Homo sapiens: one gene and its partners. The protein of the gene in region 3 purifies or fractionates together with the protein of the main gene of each other region. This does not show direct contact. Each region holds a gene or a part of one and is shown on either strand. Other genes may lie near its edges.

Region 1 (5,279 bases), on a different chromosome or scaffold from region 3:
TGTTTTTGTAATAAGCATGTTTATAGTATTATAAATTTCACACTTCCACATTTCTATACTTACAAGGTCTTAATCATAATGAATGCCATTTCTGTATTTCTCTTCAAGAAAGGAAATTACCCTTTCCACATGGACTTGAATTGCAAGATTGTTCATAGAGACTGTGGAATTCTGCTCCTGCTGTGATGGCTGTAATGAGTTCTTTGTAGTGTATGTTTATTCAGATAACAATTTATGCTTAAAAACATAACACTTTTCAAGTACACTTCAGTGAACTTGGATCTAGTTCTTATATTCTGTAGGGTAAATAAAAAAGAAAAAAAAAAGGTATAGTCCCTTCCTTCCCAAATAGAGTAAGTACAAAATCATACAGAAGTTCATTCAGAAGCCAGAAATATAATGTTCTTTTTATGAAATGAGAGACTTCTCCAGCTCTGGTAATCTGTTACTTTCTGGTTTTGAATAGTTTTTATTACTTCTCTGGAGTTAATAGTACATTGAAAAAGATGGAACATTAATTATATATATATTTGCTTGTATATATACTTTACATATTGTTTTTAATTGTACTTTTTATCTATTAAATATGATGCCAGCCCTCTTAGTCATTAAAAAAATTGAATTCTGGGCACCTACATCAAAAATTCAACATTACTTTTTTAAATTGTACAAATGAGGATAGTCTATTTGTTTTTATAATTCTTTCCTCCCATCTTCTGGCATTATCAGATATAAGTTTATTGGAGTAATCTCCAATTTATAAAAAGGTTGGTTTGAGAATAATTCAAGTCAGCTGTCTGAAGCTCAGGGTGCATTTTGTTAGAAATGGTGGTCAAGCCCTCAATAGAGTTCTGCAAGATCTCTTTATCCCTACTAGTAGGTAACAAGAATATTGATGATAGAAAAAAACCTGCTGGGTGTGGTGGCTCACGCCTGTAATCTCAGCACTTTGGGAGGCCAAGGTGGGCGGATCCCTTGAGGCCAGGAGTTGAAGACCAGCCTGGTCAACATGGCAAAACCCTGTCTCTTCTCTTCTAAAAATACAAAAATTAGCTGGGCATGGTGGTGCACGCCTGTAGTCCCAGCTACCCACGAGGCTGAGGCAGGAGATTTCGCTTGAACCCAGGAGGTGGAGGTTGCAGTGAGCCAAGATCATGGCACTGCACTCCAGCCTGGGCAACACAGTGAAACTCTGTCTCAAGGAAAAAAAAAAGTTTCTTATTGCTTGGTATAGAACTAACTTGAAAAAATAGGAGGAAATGCATATATAAAGCAACACAAAGACAGATATATGATACGTATCCAATACTTGAAAGGTGATGGTGTTTTGATGTTATTTACAGTAAGTTTTAAGTTAATATATCTATCGGTACCTATTAAATACACTTTTAAAACAGCTTTATTGAGATTATTTATATACCATGTAATTCACTTATTTAAAGTGTACAATTCAGTGGGTTTTGATATAGTACTTTTTTTAATTATAAAATTTGCCATTTTAACATTTTTAAGTGCACAATTCATAAAAGGCATTAATTACACTCACAATACTGTGCAGCCATCACCAGTATTTTCAAAATATTTTCACCACCCCAATTAAGCAGCAACACCCCATTTCCTTCCTCCCCCTAACCCTTGGAAACCTCTAATCTACTTTCTGTCTTTATGAGTTTACCAATTCTAAGTACGTCATATGTGTGCAAGCATACAATATTTGTTATTTTATGTTGGGTTTATTTATTATAATGTTCTCACAGTTCATGCATATTACAGCATCTGTCAGAGCTTTACTCTTTTTTATGGCTGAATAATATTCTTTTTGTTTCTGATATTCTGATATTCTGTTTGGTTTGGTTTTGTTTCTCCATGTATCTGTTGATGGACACTTGGATTGTTTTCGCCTTTTAGCTGTTGTTAACAATGCTGCTATTAAAATTGATGTACATTGCTTCTTGCCCTTTTGACTAAGATCAAGTGTCTATCAGAGCCCCTGCTCTCAATTCCTTTAGATATATACATTGGAGTAGACTAGCAGGGTCGGTCATATGGTTATTCTATGTTTAGCTTTTTGAGGAACCACCAAACTGTTTTCACAGCAGCTGCACCTTTGTACATTCCCAACAGTGCACAAGAGTACAAATCTCTCCATATTTTCCCAAACCCTTGTTAATTTTATAGCCATGCTAGTAGATGTGGAGAGGTCTGTCACTGTGGTTTTGATATGCATTTTTCTAAATGATTACCATTATTGAGCATCTTTTCCTGTGCTTATTGACCATTTGTATATCTTCTTTAGAAAAATGTCTGTTCAAGTCTTTTGCCTATTTTTTAATTGGGTTTTTTGTTATTGAATTGTAGGAGCTCTTTATATATTCTGGACACTAAACGCCTATCAGATGACATGATTTGTAAATATTTTCTCCCATTCTATAGATTGGCTTTTCACTTTCTTAATAATGGCCTTGGCCAGGTGTGGTAGCTCATGCTTATAATCCCAGCACTTTGGGAGGCTGAAGTGGGAGGACTGCTTGAGGCCAGAAGTTCAAGACAACATAGTGATACCCCCATCTTTACAAAAAGTTTAAAAATTAGCCAGGCTTGGTGGCACCTATAGTTTCAGCTATTCAGGAGGCTGAGGCAAGAGGATCACTTGAACCCAGAAGGTTGAGGCTGCAGTGAGCCATGATCATTCCACTACACTGTAGCCTGGGTAGCAGAGCAAGACCCTGTCTCAAAAAAAAAAAAAAAAAAAAAGTCCTTAGATACATAAAGTTTTTAATTTTGATGAAGTCCAATTTATTTTTTCTTTTGTGAAAAATATGACCTGTGCTGTGGTGTCATATCTAAGAATCCATTGCAAAATTACATTTTTAGTTTATCTTGCTAGATATGTCACAATCCTTTTTCAAAGCATCTAGGAGAATTCTTGGTACATAAGAGACTCCTTCTTAAATCAATGTAAGAAAATATAGGTTGGGCACAGTGGCTCACACCTGTAATCCCAGCACTTTGGGAGGCCAAGGCGGGTGGATCACCTGAGATTAGGAGTTTGAGAACAGCCTGGCCAACATGGCAAAACCTTGTCTCTACTAAAAATATAAAAATTAGCCAAGCATGATGGCAGGCACCAGTAATCCCAGCTGCTCAGGAGGCTGAGGCAAGAGAATCGCTTGAACCTGGGAGGCAGAGGTTGCAGTGAGCTGAGATCTTATCACTGCACTCTTACCTGGGCAACAGAATGAGACTCCATCTCAAAAAAAAAAAAAGAAAAGAAAATATAAACCAATTGTTTTATCATCACACATGAACTGAATGCTACACAAATGTAGTGTGCTCAGAAATACCAGAAATCTATGGAAGTGAGACTGTTACAGAGGCCCATTGTAGATAGACCTGACCTTACAAACAGGTGTTCTAAGAGAGATGTCAGTCTGGAAGATGTAAAATGATCCATAATATTGGGTCGTTTGGAGGACAGATTGACAGGAGAGCCCGAGGCAGCTGTATCTTTGTGCACACTTATTATATAGCTGAAACAAGCATACTTAACTCAGTTGAACAGAAGTAAGCTATCACTCCCCTGATGAAGAGCCTACAGTGGCTCCCAATCACTCAGGGAATCAGAGTGAAGGCCAAGCTAAGAAATAAACTTAGCCTTGGCTTTCAAGTCATCTGTCTGCTTTCACCTATCCACATTTTGTGAATGGGTGGGTGCCTGGGTGGGTGGATGGATGGTCAGACATAGCAGTGTTAGGGAAAATGATTATAACAGATCAAATCTGCAGTGCAGATGTAGGCTTCATGAGCAATGACACAGTATTTATTGAACCAATGATGATTGAATACATTAGCAGATTAGGTAACAAAGTGTCCCTCTTGTCTCTTGGCCGAAAGGACCCCAGAGAGATGCCCAGGCAGCCCGAGAATTCATTCTGAAGATGTTCGTGGACCTGAACCCAGACAGTGACAAAATTATCTACTCCCACTTCACGTGCGCCACAGACACCGAGAATATCCGCTTTGTCTTTGCTGCCGTCAAGGACACCATCCTCCAGTTGAACCTGAAGGAGTACAATCTGGTCTAATTGTGCCTCCTAGACACCCGCCCTGCCCTTCCCTGGTGGGCTATTGAAGATACACAAGAGGGACTGTATTTCTGTGGAAAACAATTTGCATAATACTAATTTATTGCCGTCCTGGACTCTGTGTGAGCGTGTCCACAGAGTTTGTAGTAAATATTATGATTTTATTTAAACTATTCAGAGGAAAAACAGAGGATGCTGAAGTACAGTCCCAGCACATTTCCTCTCTATCTTTTTTTTAGGCAAAACCTTGTGACTCAGTGTATTTTAAATTCTCAGTCATGCACTCACAAAGATAAGACTTGTTTCTTTCTGTCTCTCTCTCTTTTTCTTTTCTATGGAGCAAAACAAAGCTGATTTCCCTTTTTTCTTCCCCCGCTAATTCATACCTCCCTCCTGATGTTTTTCCCAGGTTACAATGGCCTTTATCCTAGTTCCATTCTTGGTCAAGTTTTTCTCTCAAATGATACAGTCAGGACACATCGTTCGATTTAAGCCATCATCAGCTTAATTTAAGTTTGTAGTTTTTGCTGAAGGATTATATGTATTAATACTTACGGTTTTAAATGTGTTGCTTTGGATACACACATAGTTTCTTTTTTAATAGAATATACTGTCTTGTCTCACTTTGGACTGGGACAGTGGATGCCCATCTAAAAGTTAAGTGTCATTTCTTTTAGATGTTTACCTTCAGCCATAGCTTGATTGCTCAGAGAAATATGCAGAAGGCAGGATCAAAGACACACAGGAGTCCTTTCTTTTGAAATGCCACGTGCCATTGTCTTTCCTCCCTTCTTTGCTTCTTTTTCTTACCCTCTCTTTCAATTGCAGATGCCAAAAAAGATGCCAACAGACACTACATTACCCTAATGGCTGCTACCCAGAACCTTTTTATAGGTTGTTCTTAATTTTTTTGTTGTTGTTGTTCAAGCTTTTCCTTTCTTTTTTTTCTTGGTGTTTGGGCCACGATTTTAAAATGACTTTTATTATGGGTATGTGTTGCCAAAGCTGGCTTTTTGTCAAATAAAATGAATACGAACTTAAAAAATAAAAGCTGGTATCTTAAAATGTAAGAGAGTAAGACTGTGAAGCCTAAAATGACTGGCTGAGAATGAACCAGAAATGCCATTTGCCAAACAGTTGTAACTAGAAATTTGATTCTCACGGTCCATTCTTTTCTTTGTCCTTAAGATGACA
Region 2 (5,279 bases), on a different chromosome or scaffold from region 3:
TGGGGGCTGGGCCCAGTAACTGAGGGAAGGATTCAGAGGACAAAGGTTAATGCCAGCGGGCAGTGCTGACTTTACACTCCCAGGGAGCCCCCTGAGGCTGCATTCATGCCAGCGCCTGACTGCTCCTACAGGAAATGGAAGGGGCCTCTGATATCTGCCACCGCAGCTTTCCTGTAGGGCCTGCGTCTGGGTCCTCAGCCCCATGGACAAGCCTTTTGGGGAAGATTAGGAATGAAGGCATAGCTCTTTCCCATTCTGCCTTCCCAGTCCAGGATTGGCTGCCTTCAGGGTCCAGTGACCTCAGGAGGAATAAGGGACAGAGGAATAAGTAACCCCAGGAGAACCGAGGGCCAGCCACGGGCCAGGCTCATGCAGGACGAGTTAGACCCTCCACCGTGCCCAGTTCTCACCATGCCCAGAGCGGCCCCCACTTTACAGCTAGGAAAACCAAAGCTCGGTGAGGTTAAATGACTTGCCCGAGGCCACAGGACCAGGGTTGTCTGGGGTATTCAAAGCCACATCTGTCCAACTCCTAGAGGCCAAGATTGTCCACTATGTACCCTGACTCTGAATGAATGAATTAAAAAGCAAATTGCACTCCAGCCTGGGCAACAAGAGTGAAACTCCATCTCAAAAAAAAAAAAAAAAAAAAAAAAGACATTGTCAAAGACTGGGCTGAGGAACAGGTGAGGTGGGTGAAGGAGTAGATTGATCACATGCCTGGGTGAGCGGGTAGGAGGAGGGAGGTAGAGGAGCGGGTGTCAGGGAGAGAAGGCCACTGGGAAGGACAGCCCCACCGTCCTGACAGACAGGGTCCCTTGCAGGTCATCGCCACCATCCCGACCAGCAGACTCAAGTTCCTCAAGGAGGCAGGCAGGCTCACACAGAAGGAGGAGATCCCGGAGGAGGAGCTCAACGAGGACGTGGAGGAGATCGACCACGCGGAGCGGGAGCTGCGGCGGGGCCAGATCCTGTGGTTCCGAGGCCTGAATCGGATCCAGACACAGGTACAGGAGGCTCTTGGGGGCTGGGCCCAGGCCTGGCCGGGGCGGGCCAGGGGATGGAGGTGAGTGTGCTTGTGCTGCCCCCCAGGGCCCAGCTCTGGTGCTGAGGGAGGGTGGCTACAGAGGGGTCCCGGCCAGCTCTCACCAGCCACTTGCACACCCACTCCTGTGGCTGCTAAGGAACAGCACGGCCTCCTCAGAGAGGTCCCATTGTGCCCTCTCAGGGCAGCACGGGGAAGTGGTAGGGGTCACACCCACCATGGTCTCCAGGGGGATTTCCCTGAGAGGGTGGGGAAGGGTGGCTCTGAGGGCAGAGGTGAGTGAGGGGACTGTCGCTCAGGGCTGGGGGCACCCACCCACAGGGGCCGTGTGAGGCTGGACAGAAGCTGCAGGCCAGGTCGCCCAGGGTCCCCCAGGGCGTGGTGGTCAGGGGGTCCGCCGCCTCCACGGGGGCTTCAGTTGCTCTCCCCAGCTTCCCCTAGGGGGTGGAGAGGCTCTGGGGAGCAAAGGTCAGTCATCCTCAAGCACACACAGACACACATGCACACACCAAGCACACCAGGGGAGCACAGGTGCAGGGCGTAGCCAGCCAGAAGCAGGTTTCTTCCCCAGAGCAGAGAGAGCATGGCTGCCACGTGGCACACGACACACCTGCGCGCCTCCCCCGACCCCCCCACACACATACCACATGCTCTCACATGGTCCCCTTATGCCTGGAGCAGGTGTTGTAGCTCACAAGTGCTGTCACAGCCCTGCGAGGGGAGGGTCAGAAGGGACTCTGTGGGTCTCTTGCCCAGACCATCTGGGGAGCTGGAGTGGGAGCTCCTCCATGCCCCAGCATGCTTGGGCGAAGTGCAGTGTAGAAGCAGCCACCTGGCCACCATCCTGCCAGCTGTGGCCCAGCACCTCATTTCCATCCGATGTAGCAGAGAGCTCACCTGGGTCACCTCCCACCCCTCTGTACCCTGTCCCAAACCTCACCTCATGTGACCTTCACAGCCCTGGGAGGTAGATGTGACTCCCCCAGTTTTAGAGGTTACCAAGGTCCAGGAGATGGCCCCTTCTACTGAGCTGGCACAGCTGGGGTGGGGACTGGAAGCCGGTTTCAGACCCGGAGGTGCCTGACACGGGCCTGGGCTCACCCTCCCTGGTTAGGGCCCCGCAGCCACCCCTCCCAGCCTGCCCCCACCTCCTGGGAGGTCCAGGACAACTCAGTGAATATGTCCCTGGTGCTGTCACTGCCCTGGCGGCAAAGCCACGCAGGGGTCTCCAGATTACGGGAGGAAGCAAGGACTGCGATTTCTTGAGTGGGCAGGGGCGCCTGTCTTGCCTGCCTCTTGCGGAATGCTAACACGGGTCAGGTGCTTTGCCACTTACAGATAACCCTGCCAGGCAGGTGGCATTGACCCTTCTTAAGAACAAGAAACTCGACTCAGAGAGGTGGCTTGCCCAAGGTCAGCTAGCTAGTAAGTGACAGAGCTGGAATTTAGGCCAAGCTCTGTCCACCTCAGGACCCCCACCACACCCTCTACCTCCACGCCTGTACCTGAGGGAGGCTGAACACTGCTCTCTTCCCTCCAGATACCATGTTTAATCACTGCCTCCCCCACTGGCCAGCCCACTGGCCCCTGAGCCACTAGCACAGGACAAAGGCCGGACCCCCTGTGTCCTCCCGGGGACCCTGGGGCCTGCAGGTGGGCCCAGAGCTGAGCAGACGTTTTTCAGAGCCTTGGAGTGTGTCTGGTATTTTTGTTTTGATTTAAGTGACATTGTCGTTGTTGCCGTGGCTGCGGCTGTTCTTGTGACGTTGCCCTGTCAGTCATGTAGCCGTTGTGCTCGTTCTTCTCGCAACTTGTCTCGTTCTCTCCTCCGTTGCAGATTGAAGTAGTCAATACTTTCAAGAGCGGGGCCTCCTTTCAGGGGGCCCTGCGGAGACAGTCCTCGGTCACCAGCCAGAGCCAGGATGTAGCCAATCTCTCTAGCCCTAGTCGCGTGTCGTTGTCCAATGCTCTTTCCTCTCCGACCAGCCTTCCTCCTGCTGCAGCCGGGCGTGAGTGTGACTCCTTACTGCCTCCGGCTGGCACTGCCCACGCCAGCTCCCAGGCGGGCAGGGGCTGGGGCACCAGAGGACATGGGGGGCAGCCGGTCACAATCAGGCCCAGGGGGATGAAGGGTCCCAGCCACCGAAGAGGGTCCCGTTGGTCAGGAGAGCGTAGCCAGTCATGCGGTGGCAGTCACTCAGTGGACCAGGGTCAGTCAGAGGGTCATTAGGGTCCCAAGTGGCCAAAAAGTCTGGTTCAGTCAAGGGGTCACCCTTGGTCAAGAGGACATCAGTGACCAAATGGTCCCAACCCACCACAGGGTCCCGGCAGCCAGAGGGGGACAGACATGGAGGGGACACAGAGTGTCCCACTGGCCTAGGGTCATATGTGGTCAGGAAAAGCCTGGACCACCAAGGCAAGGGTTGGAGTTGGACAAGAGGTCCCAGTCTTGCAGTCAAAGTCAGCAGAAGGGTCACTGTGGGTCAAGGGGAGCAAGCCCCTTAGGGTCCCAGTCAGTCACATTGGGATCCACCCAGGAGAGGGTCACGTCAACCAGACTTTCCCAGTTGGTCAGGGGGCACCCACAGTAATGAGGGTCATGGTCAAGGGGGACAGTTGAGCCAAGAGGTCACTGCAGGTCAGAGGTCATAGTCAGCCAGGGATCCCCAGGCCACCTAGGAGCTCACAGCCTAGACGCTGCACCCCAGCAGTTCAGAGTCTCTGCCCGCTTCCTGTCACTCCTCCCCTTGCACTTTTGACTGCATCAGCTGCCCTGCAGACACCTTTCCCTGTGGCTGAGCTTGGAACTTGCTGAAGTTCTAAGCCCTTCCTGGAAAGGACAAGGTCCCTGGCCCATTCAGCTTGACCCCTGGTAGAAAATGGTGGGTCGAGCCTCACATCTTGCCTGGGTGCCAGCAGGCCCAGAGGGACCTGATATGCCCTTCAGCATCCTGCCCTCCTTTATCTGAGAGATAGCCTGGGACTGTGGCCCCTCCTTCATCTCCCTCCTGCCAAGCTCATCTCCTCATGCCACCACTTCTGATCTAGATCACTCATTGCTGGCTTTGTCTAGCTCTTTCCCGGACCCATGGCTTCGGGCCCCATAGGGAACAAGTCTGTCTTTCCTCCCATCGCCCTGCTATGTTTCCAGTCAGGCGCTTCTGATCTGCAGGGGAGCCCCTGGTTCTGGTCTTCTCCAATTGGCATAGTGTCAGTCTTAGCCTCCAGCTTCTTTGATGAGAAGTAGACTCCAGCTCACCCCTTGAAACTTTATAAAGGGCCTCTACCCCCATCCAAAACCAGAACACCCACAACACAACCCCTGCAGCCAAGCAGGTAACCCGGTGTGCTGGTGGGAGCGCCTCCCTCAGTGCCTCCAGTAGGAGGCGCGGGCCACAGGGAGCCTGTTGATGGCAAATGTCCACGACCCATAGCGGCAGGACAGAAGCAGAAAGCAGGGAAGGAGCCTCTCAGTGCTCATTCGTCAGCACAGAAACGCAGTGCTGGGGAGGACCGGGGAGCCAAGATGAAATGGAGATGCATTTCAGCAGATGGTGGCTGAGTCACATTTCCATGAGATACCGTCACTAGGCAGTCACTGCCAGGATTTCTCGGGGAAGGCAACACCGGTCCCATCCTCCTCCCCTTTAGACCAGAGAGCTCTCACCTTAGCAGCAGCCTAGCCAGCTGACCTCCCAGCTCCTTTCTGCACCAACTCAGCTCTGGCCTTGCTCAGCACCCCCACCTATCCTGAGGTGCGGTAACCAAGTGTCCCGGCAGGGAGAGCTACATGGGGAAGAATCCACTTCTGTTCTGCCACCCCTCCCGATGACTCCTGCGGCCCTCCGGCTGGGGCTGCCTGCTAGCAGTCTGGCTTCTGGGTGAAGGCCCAGTTCTTTGTCCATCCCAGTTGAGCCTCTTTCTTGAAGGGCAGCACTTCACCCTGGCCACGACGGAGCACACCTGACATCGCTGGGCAGGCCCACTGCCTTTGGAAGTCGTCCCCGAGTCAGCCCCTCATCTTAGCTTTCACAGCCTGGAAGCTAGAGCTGTCCGCTCAAACCTCAGCCACTTCTTTCTCAGCTTTTCTTCTGCCTCATTTGCAAAGCCATTCAATAGGGCCCGTCCGGGAACAACACTTCTTTGCAGAAATGCCCTTTTCTTCATTTCTGCAGAAATGCTTAGACAGGAATGTGTCTACACTGACCTCCTTCGAGGCCAGATCAGTCCCCTG
Region 3 (4,773 bases):
TTCTTTAGTTTTCAAGTCCTGATAACTGCTTAAACACTAATTTGTCACAGAGTAAGTGAAATTTAAAGCCACCATTAGTCACACACAGTTTACATGAAAAATTTGAAGTCCATTCTAATGGCCTGGGGAGAGACTCTGTGTAGGAGGAAGGATATAATACATGCCCAGAGTACATGAGAGAGCTAATGAATTATGCCACCAAAGAAGTGGCAGAATTGAGTAAGTGAGTCAACCAACAATTTTGTTGTTCAAAGAAAACTTTTATGCTTAATGATTTTTTTCCCCTGTTTCTGACTTGTCAATGACCCTTCTACTGAGTTTATGATGTCATTTCAAACTTCATTCTTTTTCTCTTCTTTCTTTGAAGGAGGCTTTCAAGAGGAAGATGAAAAGACCTAACTACCATGTGAGCTATTTTGAGTTCAATTAAGTTATTAAGAATTGTTCTAAATGGATTCAACGAACCTCTGGGTTACTGTTCTAATAAAACATTTCTACAAGTTTTTACTGTAATACAAATAATCATGTTTAACCATGAAAACTTTTTTTCTCTCTTTATTTACAAATATTTTCTTTTTTGTACACAAAGTTCCTGGCTACTCTAGGCTGGTTAGTACAGGGTTGATCACCCTAAAATATCTTTGCCACAATATGAATGATGTGCTTTTGATGGTATGTCCCAGATACATATTTCCTTTTGTGGCCTGACATATGGCATTGTCTGGAGAATATTCAATATATGCTTGAAAAGAGAATGTGTTGTCTCTTCCTTTTATGGAATCTTTCATAAATATCAGATCAGGTTGCTTGATAGTGTTTGTTAATGTATTCTATATTCTTACAGATGTTCTGTTGTTCAACAAATTACTGAAATAGAATCATTGAACCCTTTAAAAAAAGATGTCTTATATACAATCCAAACAATATTTCTCTGGGATGTAGAGATGATCTACATTGAGGCAATATATCCTTTGAGAGTTTTGACATTTTAGCATAACCATGTATTAGCTTTTGATTGAATGTCTTGTCACAGCATCTTGATAATCATTGCCTGGTGCAGTCCGTGGACATACGTCTTTTGTGGAGAAATTTTCTTCAATAAATAATTAATAGTTCAATTTAGGCTTCTTATTTTATAGACATTTTCTACATAATTTTTCTCACTTTTACTTATAGATTGTCCTTCATTCATTGATCTGCAATTCTCAAATAATCTTTGAACTTACTGTGACAATATATTTAGCCATAATATATACCTTTTCTGTGATTATAAGATTATTCATAGAATTCCACAGCATTTATTAAGAACTGTCACTTTATTGAGTCTTTCCCAAAAGTAGAGCTTTGTTGGATGATCCAAGAGGAACCATCTAACGCGGACTATGAGAAGGAACTAGTTGCTTTTCATAAAGATGCAAATAACAGCAAGATGCTGTTACAGTTGTTTTGAATTAGTCACACAACTTTGCATCTGGAAACACGGTTTAGAACTATGAAAATGCCCTCTACTCTTGATAGTTGATATTAGGATATTAATTTCTATTTGCTCTGAAACATGTTTTAAAAAACAGCAACTCTAAAGAAAGGAAGAGTTACAGAAGAGAGAAACAGGGATACACAGACAGAGTCAGAAACAGAGACAGAGATAAAGAGATCCAGCCAGCTGTACATAAGATTCCCTACATTACAATTACAGATACACTAATTAAGTTTTAGGAGTAATTAATCACATAAAACATTAATGCAAGAACTGAAGTTAATTTAGAAACATCTTATCTTTGTTTGTCCTAGAAAAGCATAGTTTCTCTTCAGATTTGTTTATGTTGTTGGAATTTTCTTCCTTTTAGAATAGACATTACTTTCCAAATCACCTTTAGAGATGCATGTCTTAATTTATTGTTCCCCAGTATTAGGATAAATGAATGACTTGAGGGGTAGATTAGAGCTATGGACTCACCAAAAATCACAGCTAATTCCGTCTCTGGCATAAAGTAGCTGGAGGTGGCAATGAGAAAGGACAAATAGTAGGCAATAAAGAGGAGAAGGAAGGAAATGACAGCTTTCAGGGCTCTCACATGGGCTTCTGTGCTGGGGTCTCTGCACCCTGTGGCACTGAGCTGCATTCGCCTGATATGTCTCCGCAGGGAGAGGATCAAGAGGAAAAAGGACATTAGGCACACACAAAAGGGGAGCAGCGTTGCCAGGTTGAGAAATAACTTGGTAGAAGCATGTTGAGTTTTATTTACTCTGCAACTCCAAGTTAAGTTTGTTTTCCTCTTTGCCTTCACACAAAACCTGAAATCAGCGTTCAAATTCTCAGTGGCTGGAAGGCTAATAAACACAGAGAGAACCACGCACCCCAGTAGAATCCAGGAAATCACCCTGTCAATTCTCCACTTCATCCAGAGGAAAAGTGGGTGAAAGAAATTACCTATCTTGAAGAAATAGTAAATGCTGAGGCAGGTTGCAAACCAGATACTTAAATGATTGGTTAGTGTCCAGAAGAAGTCAATGATTCTCATTTCTTTACCAGTGGCATAGACATCTGGATATAGCACCAATATAAAACAATCTAATAGTATTACGCACAATAGACAAATTCTGGATATGGCCAGACTTGTGAGGATTAAATCAATGGAGGCAATTTTCCTCTTCTTGACCCAGTCCATGCAGTTTACCAATCCAATGAATGCATTCCCTAAGATCCCCACTGAAAACTCTCCAACTGCTAAGAACAATAAAGTAGTCTGCACTTTATCTGCCATGTTTAAATATGCAATTAGTTTCTAGTTGACCTGATGGAGTTTGACATCCACACCTGCTTCTTAGATTTTGATGTAGTTTTCTTTACCTCTTTGTTGTAGTCTGTTTTGTGATGGAGACTGGAATGATAAATGAAGACTGGAGCTATCTTCATTAAATCCTAATTAGTCTTGACAAACAATGTGTTTGGCGATCCTTGGCCTGGCCACTGTATGCCCATTTACCTACTCAGCAGGTTGTAATTTTCCACATACGGTTAATTTAGGCTGAGCTACTGTTTACTAAGATGCAAATTGGGCCAATTCCCTTTCATGGTCCTGCATTGTCTTTCTGAGGCTAAGGTGTACGCATTTTGGATTCATTAATTTGTGATGTATGCTAGTAACCTCAATAGGGTTGCTAGATTTAGCGACTAAAAATTCAGGACACTCAGTTAAACTTGAATTACAGGTAAAAAAATCAATAATTTTTTAGTGTATGTCCCTGATTACTTAAGATCAGTGCTTTCAGGAAGTACTGAAGTTCAAATTAGATTGAGTGTTCCATTCTGGCAACCTGAACATCAAGAATTTGGTAGCAAGTATAAAACTGGTAAAATTGGAAAGTTCTTGAAGAATTTTTATTTTGCTGAATGTTAATATTGATAATTAGTAAAGAATCCAAAGTTTGGTTCCATAGTGAGAGTTATATATTTTCAGGAACTTTAAAAAGTTAACACTAAATGTAGGTTATTTGATTCCAAAGAAACTTTAGGTCATTATTTTGGCTGTTCAGATGAACAATTACATGGCATAGTGTCTCTTAATACAACACATTGTCTTACTGACTAAATGACTTTTAATGGTTATTTAGCAATGTTATATATAATAAGGTAGAGGACCTGTAATAAAAAAAGACTATTGATTACCTTAAATTTTTCATTTTCACTTAAAATGTTCTCAAGGAAACTTTGAGAGGTATTAGATATGTCCATTACCTTGTTTGTGGTGAAGATATCATGGGTGTTTGAAATTTTATACATTAAATATATGCGGTTCTTTTTATACCAATTATACTTTCATAAAGATTTCAAAAATTTAAAAAATGTTCTCAAGGGTAGTTGTATGCATGAGAGAGGAGATAGTAAAATTCTGTATTTCATTCTCTCCACTGTCCTCCATACAAATTGCATGAGTATCTAGATCCTCAACCCTTCTAGCAGGAGACTGAAGATTAAACTTTCCACATCTCTAGAGATGAATTTTTAGTTTGAAATAGCTTCTCTAATTTAGAGTTACTGAGAAGCGCTTTACTACATGGGGTTCCATAGAATAGTTCTTGGGTATTCACACCTTCCTGGGAATGCATGTCTTCTCTTATCCTTCCTTAAAGGACAAACCATCATTCCGGAGATGTAGCCTTAACTTTTGGACAATCTGTATGATTATGTAGCCATGTTCACAGGCAACTGGAACATCACCTATGATAGGACGATCTTGGATATGATCCCTGACCTAGACTTATCATTTCTTTTGTTTTTTTTTTGAGATGGAATTTCGTTCTTGTTGCTCAGGCTGGAGTGCTATTTTGGCTCACCGCAACCTCCATCTCCCAGGTTCAAGTGATTCTCCTGCCTGAGCCTGCCAAGTAGCTGGGATTACAGGCAGGTGCAACCATGCCTGGCTAATTTTGTATTTTTAGTAGATTCCGGGTTTCTCCATGTTGGTCAGGCTGGTCTTGAACTCCCGACCTCAGGCGATCCGTGTGCCTTGGCCTCCCAAAGTTCTGGGATTACAGGTGTGAGCCACTGTGCCTGGCCTAGACTCATCATTTTTACCCTACAGTTTATCCTGGTAAATGAAGTGCTCATGGGAACTATGATGATGTATTTTCTCAAATAATTTTTAGACTTGTTTTTGTTTAGTTTTGGAAATAAATGTAGATTTTATGAATACCAATGTTGTATAGCGTGAAGTTATGTGAATATATAGTTAAAAAAAAAGTTCTATGAGAGAGCATTTTGTCAAAAGC
Region 4 (5,279 bases), on a different chromosome or scaffold from region 3:
TCTCTACAAAAACAGAGTAATTAGCCGGACATGATGGCAGGTGCCTATAATGTCAGCTACTCAAGAGGCTGAGGCAGGAGAATCGCTTGAAGCCAGGAGGTGGAGATTGCAGTGAGCCTAGATGGTGCCACTGCACTCCAACCTGGACAACAGAGTGAGACTCCATCTCAAAATAAATAAAATAAAATAAAATCCTACCATCTGCAACATGAATGAACCTGGAAGGCATTATGCCAAGTGAAATATGCCAGAGAAAGACAAATACAACTGGCCCTTGAACAACACAGGTTTGAACTGCACATGTCCATTTACACCCAGATTTTTCTCAACCAAATGCAGATCACATTTGCAGATGTGAAACCCACATATTTGGAGGGCTGAATTTTGGATGCACAGGTTCTGCAGAGTCAACTTCTGGACTTCAGTATGTGCGAATTTTGGTATACATGGGGGTCCTAGAACCAGTCCTCCGAGCATACCAAGGGACAACTATACTGTATGGTAACCAAACTCACAGAAACAGAGAGTAGAATGCTGGTTGCCAGGGATAAGGGGGTAGGTGAAATGGGAAGATGTTGGTTAAAGAACACAAACTTTCTGAGGATCTAATGTACAGCACATGGTGACTATAGCTAATAATACTGGACCTTATACCTGAAATTTGCGAAAGAGCATCTTTTAAGAGTTCTCACCAAAAAAAAAAAAAAAAAAAAAAAAGAAAGTTACTACATAAGGTGATGGATTTACTGAGATTAAAGATTATTCCCAGTTGAAATGTGGGCTGGGCTCAGTGGCTCATGCCTGTAAGCCCAGCACTTTGGGAGGCCAAGGCAGGCAGATCACTTGAGGTCAGAAGTTTGAGACTAGACTGGCCAACATAGCGAAACTGCGTCTCTACTAAAAATACAAAAACTACTGAGTGTGGTGGCGTGTGCCTATAATTCCAGCTACTCGGGGGGCTGAGGCTTGAACCCAGGAGGTGGAGGTTGCAGTGAACTGCCATCTTGCCACTGCACTCCAGCAGTGATAGGTGATGGAATGAGACACTGTCTCAAAAAAATAAAAAAAAGGAAAAAAGAAATGTGTTGTTTTCAGAGAAGCATTTACAAAACACGCCCCTACATCTTCTCCCTTAATCATTTAAAACAAAACACAAGTTACAAAAATAAAGATTTTGATTTTGTTTTATAAGGTACAAAATGTAGCAGTTCCAACACTGGAATTTGGAAGCTGTTTTTGTCTTTGATACCACAACATGGATTAAATTTCAAATTAATGTATATAATCCCATAGAGCCCAACATAATTAAGTCATTTAAAAGTCTGATAAAACATGCTTTTTAATTTTAAACATAATTAATAATTTAGTCATTTTTCAGTGTAAAAAAGTCAAAATTTATCTTGATATATTATTAATATTAATAACTTTAAAATACAACTTTTAACAATGTACTGATCCATAATAAAGTATTTGTTACTTCAAGTTTCTTTTTCATCATATATCATACAAAATGACGAAAACTTTTTAAATTTCCTGAAGGGGTTCAAGAGATTCTTCATTATTGTGAAAGACACTCACAGGTAAAAACATAATCTGTGATGTATGATTCCACTTATATATGATGCCTAGAGTAGTCAAATTCATAGAGACAGAAATAGAATGGTGCGGCAGGGGGCAGTGGCTCATGCCTGTAATCCCAGCACTTTCGGAGGCAAAGGTGAGCAGATCACTTGAGCTCAGGAGTTCAAGACCAGCCTGGCCAACATGGTGAAACCCTGTCTCTACTAAAAACCCTGTCTCTACTAAAAATACAAAAAAATTAACCAGGCATGGTGGCAGGCACCTATAATCCCAGCTACTCAGGAGGCTGAGGCAGGAGAATCGCTTGAACCTGGGAGGTGGAGGTTGCAGTGAGCCAAGATCGTGTCACTGCACTCCAGCCTGGATGACAGAGTGAGACTCCACCTCAAAAAAACAAACAAGGGCTGGACGCGGTGGCTCACGCCTGTAATCCCAGCACTTTGGGAGGCTGAGGTGGGTGGATCACGAGGTCAGGAGATCGAGACCATCCTGTCTAACATGGTGAAATCCCATCTCTACTAAAAAGTACAAAAAATTAGCCGGGCGTGGCAGCGGGCGCCTGTAGTCCCAGCTACTCGGGAGGCTGAGGCAGGAGAATGGCGTGAACCCGGGAGGTGGAGCTTACAGTGAGCCGAGATCGCGCCACTGCTCTCCAGCCTGGGTGACAGAGTGAGACTCCGTCTCAAAAAAAACAAAACAAAAAAAAAAAAAAAGAGAAAGACAATGGTGGTTGCCAGGATGTTGGGGAATGGGATAATGGTGAATTAGTACTTGATGGGTAGACAGTTTCAGTTTGGGAAGATGCAAAGGTTCTGGAGATGGATAGCGGTATAATCGCAGAACGGTTAAGAATGTACTTAATGACACACAACTATACACTTAAAAAATGGTTAAGATGGTAAATGTTATGCCTATTTTATCACTATTTTAAAAAATTATCTAGGCCAACCCCTCCTCATTTTACAAACAACGTCCAAGTTCACATAGCTACTCAATTACAAAGACAATTTAATTCTATTTCTACTAATAACACTGCCCCTAAATTATTTCTAGGCTATAATAAAAAAAGACACTGCTAGAGACAAAGTGGCTAAAAGGAGGTAAATGACAAAAAAAAATTGTACAGAAAAAATAATTTACAATTACAATTAAAATGGGCAGTCAGATATGCTTTTTTCTTTTTTTTTTTTTTTTTTTTTTTGAGACAGAGTCTTGCTCTGTTACCCAGGCTGGAGTTCAGTGGCACAATCCTGGCTCACTGCAGCCTCCGCCTCCTGAGCTCAAGCGATTCTCCTGTCTCAGCCTCCCGAGAAGCTGGGACTACGGCCACGCGCCACCACGCCCAGCTAGTTTTTGTATTTTTAGTACATACGGGGTTTCACCATGTTGGTCAGGCTGGTCTCAAACTCCTGACCTCAGGTGATCCACCTATCTCGGCCTCCCAAAGTGCTGGGATTACAGGTGTGAGCCACCACGCCCATCTAAGATATGCTCTTAATACATGGACTTTTACATTTGACTTATTCCTGCATCCATTCTATGTCCCTTCTTGTTTTCCTGTTCTTACCTTTTTCTAACGTCTTTTTAATCTATTTTATATGTCTTTGTAATCCTTAAGTACTCTTTAAAAGAAATGGGAAATAAATAAAATGTACGGTCATACTTGTAACTGACTTACAAAAGTACACAGAAGACTGCAGAATATTTTTCAACAAAATAATTAAAGTTAAAATGTGATCTTTTAGAAGGATAATTCCCCAATGGCATAAAAGAGGCTTTGTTATAATTTAAAGGTAAACAAAATCATGTAGGCATGCCTACTTCTTTTAAGCACAGAGTTTTTTGTACAAATACCTTTTTCAAAACAATTACCTTGGAAACCACTTGGCATGTTCTACCCATGGATCATCTCCAGATTCCCAACACCTCAAGCCACCATCACAACAAAAGCATTTGACATCATCATTGCGACCTTCAGGAAAAAAAAGACTAAATATTGAAAACACGTATGTTCTAATATGTAAATTAAAATAAAATGATAAAATGTATAGTTATTTGCTTCTTACCCACATAATAAAAACCAGCACTTGCAAGCTGCTCAGGCTGAACTGGAACACTAGATGGCCAGTACATAAATGTTCTCATTCGAGCTGCATGTGTCTGCATGCTCAGATTTGAAATGCTAAACCTCAGAGTTTCTAGAGAATTTTCCAAAAATGGACAGTTGGGAAAATGCCTCCGGTGTTCTGACATAGCATCATCCTTTGGTTCCCAGTTACTGAGCTTCCCACCACAGGCAAAGCAGGCTACCCTATCTCCAGGTCCTATATAATAAAAACCAGCTCTTGCCAATTCTGATGGTGACAAAAAAGTTAATGGCCACATATGGTAGGTAAGAAATCTGGCTTCTTCAGTACTCATTGCATAACTGTAGGGGTTAGTCCTCGATGAAGAGATGTCTTCAACTGCTCTAGAATTAAGAGGGTTTGGAGAAAGGCTGGAGTAAGAACCACTGAACAAGCTACTATGTTCCAAGGTGGGAGATAATGAATGTGCAAAACTGTTTCTCATTGGAGACGTATTCTTAGAGGTGGATCCCAGACTAGCTGAAACCAGATTCTGAATAAAGCTACAGCTAGGATATAGCTGTTTATGCTTTTGAATAGGACTGTCTCCTAGTTTCCAGTTATCCAGCATCAGGCCACAACAGAAGCATTTGACCTTGTCATTCACACCAGTATAATAAAAACCAGCACGAGCAAGACTCCTTTCTGAGACAGGCACCCCGGCGGGGAAAGTTGAATATGTAGACATTCTGTAGAGTTCACAGGAAAAGTCATACTTCATTTTTTGTTTGTTGCTGTTTGTCCAATCTGACAAGATCGTGCTATCTTCCATTATACTCTTAATGTTTTGATACGAGGGACCTGGGAAAAGTCTTTGGGAGGCAGTTTTGTGCATGAGTAGGTGACAGTACTGTTTGATAGCTAAAACATTCACATGAAATTTCTTCACATGAACTAAGATTTTTACCACAAAAAGAAATCAATGATAGACTCTTATGTAGAATTTACTACACTTTCTTTACTGGATTTATCTCAGTTTATATTCAGGTAGGATGAGTATCTCTCTGAATTACCAAGATACTACTTAGAACACAACTCTTTGGGGTTGTAGTAACTCTTTCAGGTAACCTAAGTGCTATTTGTTCATAATCTTGAGTAATACTAACTTAAAGCCCTGAAAGGTGGATGCACTTCTGAAAATATTAAAACTCCTTGATTTTTCACAGAGATTTATATTAACAAAATTCTAAGCAACTATAGAATACCTAAATTATGCCTTTTATTTATATTTGGTTACAAGCTATGAAGCCTGAATAACAGACCAATTACTGATTATGCCACAAGGTAAAAAATTATATGCAGGCTTCTTTCCCTATAAGCACTTTAACATGACAACCCAAAAAATCTCATTTTATTCCAATAAACAAAAGTAATTAAAACCTTCATATGGTCACACTATTTAAAAGCTAAGTTCACACAGCTTATCATCATAGTATTTACTTAAGTGGGCTAAATTACTTCAGCTGACAACTTTTGGGGGAAGTCAATACCCACAAGCTTTGTTGAACCTGTGCCTGCTATAGTGCTTGATGTCAAATGAATTTGGCTTAAAGTTCAAAAACTGTAAACTCT

The links. Proteins that work in one complex are often made in the same cells at the same time.
Region 1: the proteins of TAS2R7 (region 3) and GNAQ purify together in Homo sapiens (affinity purification with mass spectrometry; 2 studies listed by BioGRID and IntAct, with this or other methods). This does not show direct contact.
Region 2: the proteins of TAS2R7 (region 3) and ATP2B2 purify together in Homo sapiens (affinity purification with mass spectrometry, with the first as the bait; one large-scale study listed by BioGRID). This does not show direct contact.
Region 4: the proteins of TAS2R7 (region 3) and BIRC2 purify together in Homo sapiens (affinity purification with mass spectrometry; 3 studies listed by BioGRID and IntAct, with this or other methods). This does not show direct contact.

Annotation. Positions count from the first base shown.
Region 1 is NC_000009.12:77,720,129-77,725,407, reverse strand, and holds part of GNAQ (guanine nucleotide-binding protein G(q) subunit alpha), read left to right. Parts: intron 1-3,894; coding exon 3,895-4,085; 3' UTR 4,086-5,279.
Region 2 is NC_000003.12:10,333,904-10,339,182, reverse strand, and holds part of ATP2B2 (plasma membrane calcium-transporting ATPase 2), read left to right. Parts: intron 1-824; coding exon 825-1,007; intron 1,008-2,882; coding exon of another isoform or gene 2,883-3,054; intron 3,055-5,279. UniProt on the Homo sapiens protein: ATP-driven Ca(2+) ion pump involved in the maintenance of basal intracellular Ca(2+) levels in specialized cells of cerebellar circuit and vestibular and cochlear systems.
Region 3 is NC_000012.12:10,799,806-10,804,578, forward strand, and holds TAS2R7 (taste receptor type 2 member 7), read right to left. Parts: upstream 2,823-4,773; 5' UTR 2,766-2,822; coding exon 1,809-2,765; 3' UTR 1,727-1,808; downstream 1-1,726.
Region 4 is NC_000011.10:102,349,118-102,354,396, reverse strand, and holds part of BIRC2 (baculoviral IAP repeat-containing protein 2), read right to left. Parts: 5' UTR 4,543-5,279; coding exon 3,648-4,542; intron 3,554-3,647; coding exon 3,454-3,553; intron 1-3,453. UniProt on the Homo sapiens protein: Multi-functional protein which regulates not only caspases and apoptosis, but also modulates inflammatory signaling and immunity, mitogenic kinase signaling, and cell proliferation, as well as cell invasion and metastasis.